Regions from separate parts of the Homo sapiens genome. Here region 2 is linked to region 1. Evidence: fine-mapped expression QTL. Tissue or cell type: whole blood. Region 1 holds a variant in brackets; the other region holds the start of a gene. All regions are shown on one strand. Distances are from middle to middle. Region 1 overlaps MYO7B (myosin VIIB). Region 2 holds the start of MYO7B (myosin VIIB).

Region 1 (2,900 bases):
GGCCTGGGTGCATCCCCAGGACCAGCAGCCAAGGTGGCAAGGCCAGGCGGGACCCCCTGCGCCCTTGGCCCATTCCAAGGAGGGAGGGAGACCCAGCTCCAGCAGGGCAAGCAGAAATGACGGCCCCAATGGCAGGAGCCCGCCTTCCCTTTCTCCATGCCCTGCACTGCTGGTTGCTGAGGAAGAGAAGGTGGTCCCTGAGTCCAGGACCCCCACCTGCCCTCTGCACCCACAGCCTCTGACCCCCCCGTCCCCTGTCCAGGGCTATAAGATGGATGACCTGCTGACCTCATATGTGCAGCAGCTCCTGAGTGCCATGAACAAGCAGCGGGGCTCCAAGGCCCCAGCCCTGGCCAGCACCTAGCAGCGGATGCTGGCGTGTCTGCTCAGGCGCCCTTCCCGACCTCTAGCCTGGCGGCACCTTCCCAGGCCCTCTCAACCCAGGGCCTGTCCTTGGCGGGCAGCCTTCCATGCTGCCCCCCATACAAAGCCCACTCAGCCCCGCAGGCGGCCCCCTCTGTCCTGGGCGCTGCCCAGGGAGGCCAAAAGACGGGCCCAGAATGGGGTCGGGAGTCTCGGACCCCCAGGCTATTGGTGGATGACTGACTGACAGGACACCTCCCAACCCCACCCCACCCCACCAGAATGTTCAATAAAAACTCCTGGAGCAGGAGAAGTGTGTCTGTCTGAGGGAGCAGGGTGTGGCACAAGGTGGACAGGGGGCCTGGGAGGCTCTGGCCCGCAGAGAGCTGCAGAAAAACCAAAATGCCGTGTGACTGACTCCCCCAGGGAACCCGGAGGGCAGCTGCATTCTCCAGAAATGACTTCATCCCTCCCTTTCTGCTTCCTTCCTCCCCCTCCCTTCCTTCCTTCCTGTTTCTCAGACTGGGGAGGGGCACTCATGGGAGAGTTCTCCTCCCAGGCCCCTCCTCACACCTTCTGTCCTTCTCCCCACCCGGGGCATTGATACGCCTGCGCTACCCCCAGGAGGCCAGGGTGGAGGTGCGGCTCTCTGGCTGCTGGCTTCATGCTATGGCCAGCTTATGCCCAGACAGACAGTGGGCAGAGCTGGACATAGCACCTTGGAGGCCTGGATTCCCCCACCTCGCTGGCATGCCCTGTCCCTGCCCACCTCCTCCTCTGCCCACTGGGCCAGCTTATGTGGACCTGGCCACCCAGGCTTGTGAGGACCTGGCAGGGCTAGTCTTCAACTGCTTATGGCAGCCTGGCCTGGGATAGAGGCTAGGGCCCCCTGAACTCGTGCCTGTCTATGTCTGTCCCTCTGTTCAACTGCCCCAGCAGCAGCGTGTCCAGAGCTGCTGCCATCCCCTCCACCCCCGACCCCCGCCACAAACCACGCAGGCTGCTGTGGTTGTGTGAACAAGCCTTCATTGTGCAAGCGTGAGCC[CAACA/C]AACAAACACCAGGTCTGCGCTGGCCGAAGACGAAGCGTCCTCCCTGGAGGTGGGAACAAGTCACCTCTGACCACACCTCCTCTGACGCCATCACCTCCTCCTGGCCCCACCCAAGGGCTCGACACAAGCCCCAAGGTCGGGGGGAGAGGGGCGGGGCGGAACCGAGGGCGGAGGCCAAGGTGGGATTCCAGGAAGGCCTTCCGAAGGATGGAGGTGGGTCCTGTCCCTCCAGGTAGCTTGTGGGTGTGGACAGCAGGACTTGCTGGCTCAGTGTGGGCACAAGGACACTGTGCCACTGGTTGAGTGAGTGGTGAGGGATTGGAGGTGGCTCCCAGAGGCCTCCATCTGCATGGCCCTGGCCCTGTGGCTCCAGCAGGCTGCCCTGGCTGTGGGTAGCCCAGGAGCCACATGCGCTTAGTGGGGCCGCTCTGGGGCAGGGGCTCTCACAGGACAGCATGAGCCACTGAGCCGCCTGGGGAGGGCCAGGCCAGGCGGGGAGCTGTGGTGCAATTTGCTCCTGTCCCTGGAGGTCTGTGGGCGGAAGCTGTGGGCACAGGTGGACATGGCTGTCAGACGTGGGGTCATAGGCTCCCACTCCCCAGCTCCTGCCTCCTCACAGACAGAAGCCACGGCCAAGGAGAGGAGAGACATGGGGAAGGCAGAGATGAGGGAACAGGAAGGGAGAAGGCAATGAGGAAAGAGAAAGGGAGGGTAAGATGCGGAGGGCACAGGTGGATGGGGACGAGGGGGCCAAGCATGGACAGCAGGAGGGGAGAAGGCGGAGGGGCCGAGAGGCAGCTGCGCAAGAGGGCCTTCAGGCAGAGTTGAGGTCTGTGGCCTTGGGCTGGGCCTTGCGGGAGGTCAGCTCCGACAGCTTCTTCAGCCGCTTCTTCAGCTCCAGCGGGAACTTCTCGTAGCACCTCTTACACACGGGCTTCATGTCGAACTCCACAAACTTGTTCCTGAGGAGGAAGCTGAGCTGTCAGCAGAGCCCCACGCCCACCCCTTTAACCCCAGACAGGTGACTGTGGAGTGGGCTTCCCTCAGCCCCCAGCCTCCCCACACCAGCCTCTCCTAGCCAGCAGGCCAGGCCCTAGGGTGAGATGGCCAGAGAGCATAGGGATGAGAAGGGCCTTGAGGCTTCCCTTGCCTCCCAGAGGCTTCTCTCAGGTTCTGAAACCCCAGAACCCTCTATGCCTCCCCACAGCCCTTGGAAACCTGGACGCCATCTCTCCTCTCCCAGCTCCAGCCATCCCACACCCCTCGAGGCTTCCTGGATGAGCAGCTGACACTGCTGCTTTTGCATATGCTGTTCCCTGAGCTGGAATGCCCTTCCCTCCCCAGAGCCCAGGGTTCTGGCAGGTGTGTTGGAGGCATGAGTGTTCCTCCTCCTCTCACTGTGCCTGGGGTCCCTGGGGTCCCTGGATCCCCTAGACCCCCTGAACCTGCCCCCATCTCCCTGGGTGGTATAAGGCCGGGCTGCCCCT
Region 2 (2,900 bases), 100 kb before region 1:
TGCCTGCAGTTCCCAAGTCCCTCCAAGTCCAAGGAAAAGAAAGGAATCTGATTGGCTCTAGTTGGGCCAACTGTAAGGATGACCAGACCCCTTTTTTACCCAACACAAGGCCTGTGGCTGACCAGGTAACTACCTGCCCCTATTATCCACCCGCCTTCAAAGCCTTGCATAAATGAGCTCCCCTCGCCCTCCTGCTCACTTCCAGGGACTGCCTGGCCCCTCCAGTCTGACCCCACCCAGGGCCCACTGCGGTTGCACTTCCCTTCTAAACAGTCTGTATTTGCCTTAAGCCCAAATCCCCCTTGATCAAGTGCCAGCCCAAGCCTGCCCAATTTGTTGCCAGGTACCCTCCTGGGAACCTTGTTGTCTGATGGCCTTTGTCTCTAAGGCTTCCTGATGGCCCCAGACATGTCCCAGGTGTATGCTCCTTTCACACTCAACACAGAACACTCTCTTGACCAGGTGTCCAAGCAGTTCTCCAGCAGACTCCGTCTGGATGTCCTATAATTCAATTCAATCAGACACTGTCAACCTGGAGTCATAGATCCCACAGGTTAAGGGCTCAGTCCCACAAAACTGCCCCACTTCAAATGCAGTCTCAAGTCCTAGGTTGCCACCTATACTTCTGACCAATTGGCTATAAATCGGGGTTCCCATGCCCCACACCTGAGGTTGGATTTGCTAGCATAGCTCATGGAACTCAGGACGGCACTCATATTGACCAGTTCGTGGGAAAAGATTTTACAAAGGATTACAGATGAGCAGCCGAATAAACACGCACAGGTGAGTTGTGTGGGAAGGTCATGGAGCTTCCATGCCCTCTCCCGCATGCCACCCCCCAGGGACCTCAGATGTGTGGAAGCTTGTCAAATCTTGTTCAAGAGTTTTACCTTCCCAGAGGTCAGTAGGCGGGGCTGAAAGTTCCAACCCTCTATTCACTAGGTCTTTCTGGTGACTGACCCCATGCTGAGGCTAGGTAGGGCCCCCACATGGTCACCTCCTCAGCATAACTTCAGGTGTTATCAAACGGACTCATTATGAGATGATCACTTGGGAAATTTTTTGTTTGTTTGTTTGTTTGAGACGGAGTCTCGCTCTGTCACCCAGGCTGGAGTGCAGTGGCCCGATCTTGGCTCACTGCAAGCTCCACCTCCCCGGTTCACGCCATTCTCCTTCCTCAACCTCCAGCTGGGACTACAGGCGCCCGCCACCACGCCCAGCTAATTTTTTTGTGTGTGTGTTTTTAGTAGAGATGGGGTTTCACCGTGTTAGCCAGGATGGTCTTGATCTCCTGACCTTGTGATCCGCCTGCCTCGGCCTCCCAAAATGCTGGGATTACAGGCGTGAGCCACCATGCCCGACGATCACTTTGGAAATTCTAAGGGTTTTAGGAGTTCTGTGACACCAACCGGGAACAAGGACCAAATATACTGTATTTTATATTATACTACCACCCTCAATTAGAGCTTGGGGTGCTTGGGGGCAGAGCTCCTGCCATGCAGCACCTGGGAAGATGCTGAGCCCCCGGATGGTCAGCTGACTGTCACCATGGGATCTGGCTGGTGGCCAGAGCAGGTGCACAGACTGCAAACCCTGGTGGCCTCCGGGCAGCATGCATCGCTGCTCTGCAGAAGGGGCCTGGGTTAAAGAGCAGGTATCATGAGGCTCTGCCAGCTGGGGCTGAGGGAGGCGTGTGGGAGTGGAAGTGCCTGGAGCCCAGGGACAAAGTCCTGTAATAAATTACGTGGGCCCAGAGTGCTCCCAGTCATTTCCTCTTGGAGCCCTACCTCTTCTTCCTCTGTCCCTTACTCCCTGACACACCCGGAGTCCCAACATTGCCTCCTTTCCTGGCTCTTTCAGGGTGCCCAGGGTGGAGGGGAAGGGGAGTCAGCCAGACCCCCATCCTGACAAGGTAAGGGCGTGCCGGGGGCGTGTCTGCCAGCGGGGAGTAGGGGGTCACCTCTCTGAAGAGGGTCGCTGGGCAGGAGGCAGGTCCCCTGGAAATAAGATGGAACAGGTCTGAGGGATAGAGAGTGGAGAAGCCCTTCAGGAGCCTGGAAACCAGAAACCGCAGCAGGGGACTCAGTCCATCGGGCTGAAGGGCAGCACCTGGGGGGCTGAGGAGGAGGAGGAGGGGGAGAAGCTGTCTAGCCCTCTGCTGTAGAAGGGCAAACTCCCTGCAGGAGGGGAACGGCAGGTGCCAAGGCTGCTCCCACCCTGAAGCCTCCTCACAGCTAGAGGGCCTCACTGTGGAATCATGGGACATCATGGATAGCCTGGGTCCCATGATGAGCCCCTGCCAGATGTCAGCTGTGCCGTGTGTGACATCCCACTGCGTCCTCGCAACACAGTGGTGGAATTGCCTCCATTTTATGGACACAGAGACTGAGGACCATGGAAGCGAAGGTGCCCACGGGAAGAAGCAGAGCCGGATTCGACTCCAAAGCCCAGGCTTATCCGCCTTACCCATGTACCTTGGGCAATTGGCTTTAGTCACCTCTGGAAGGCTGGGACCCTAGGGAGAGGCAGGACAGGTCTGGGGTGTGGTGGGGGGGGGGGTGGGGGAAGAGGTGGCTGAGGAGAGGGACCGCACCGGGGCTCACATGGGCTGTCCCCCTTGAGCTGTCCAGGTGGTGTGTGTCCCATCCCCATTTCACAGAGGACGAAACTTGAGACACAGAGATTGTGAGAGCTGGCCCAGGTCAGACAGCTGGTGGGTGTGGGGCCCCCAACCCAGATCCCCCAAATTCTCCATGACGAGGCCTCCCCTTCAGGCTCCACTTTGTAACCCTGGACTTGAATTTTGCTCTAATTTATCAGAACCCTGCACTTTGTTTAGGATTTTAGTTCAGAGATTCACACACACCCTCAGTGAATCATTGTTAGGAACCACTCAGCTC

What was found. PIP is the estimated chance that this variant, and not a neighbour inherited with it, causes the effect.
Region 2: MYO7B starts here. The variant in region 1 is fine-mapped to the expression of MYO7B in whole blood (INTERVAL, PIP above 0.99). The same link has a PIP of 0.9 or more in neutrophils, prefrontal cortex and subcutaneous fat.

The regions. Positions count from the first base shown.
Region 1 is chr2:127,637,054-127,639,953 of GRCh38, forward strand. MYO7B (myosin VIIB) reads left to right here. Exons shown (of 48, transcript NM_001393586.1): 48 at 263-673. The coding sequence ends at 364. It overlaps LIMS2 (LIM zinc finger domain containing 2), which reads right to left. Exons shown (of 10, transcript NM_001161403.3): 10 at 1,373-2,375. The coding sequence ends at 2,228. Among named protein-coding and RNA genes, the nearest start is that of GPR17, 7.6 kb to the right of the region's middle. RefSeq lists enhancers at 1-693, 694-1,640, 1,641-2,586. The variant CAACA/C (reference allele first, on the strand shown) is at 1,409.
Region 2 is chr2:127,533,920-127,536,819 of GRCh38, forward strand. MYO7B (myosin VIIB) reads left to right here and starts at 1,764. Exons shown (of 48, transcript NM_001393586.1): 1 at 1,764-1,912. RefSeq lists an enhancer at 1,796-2,646.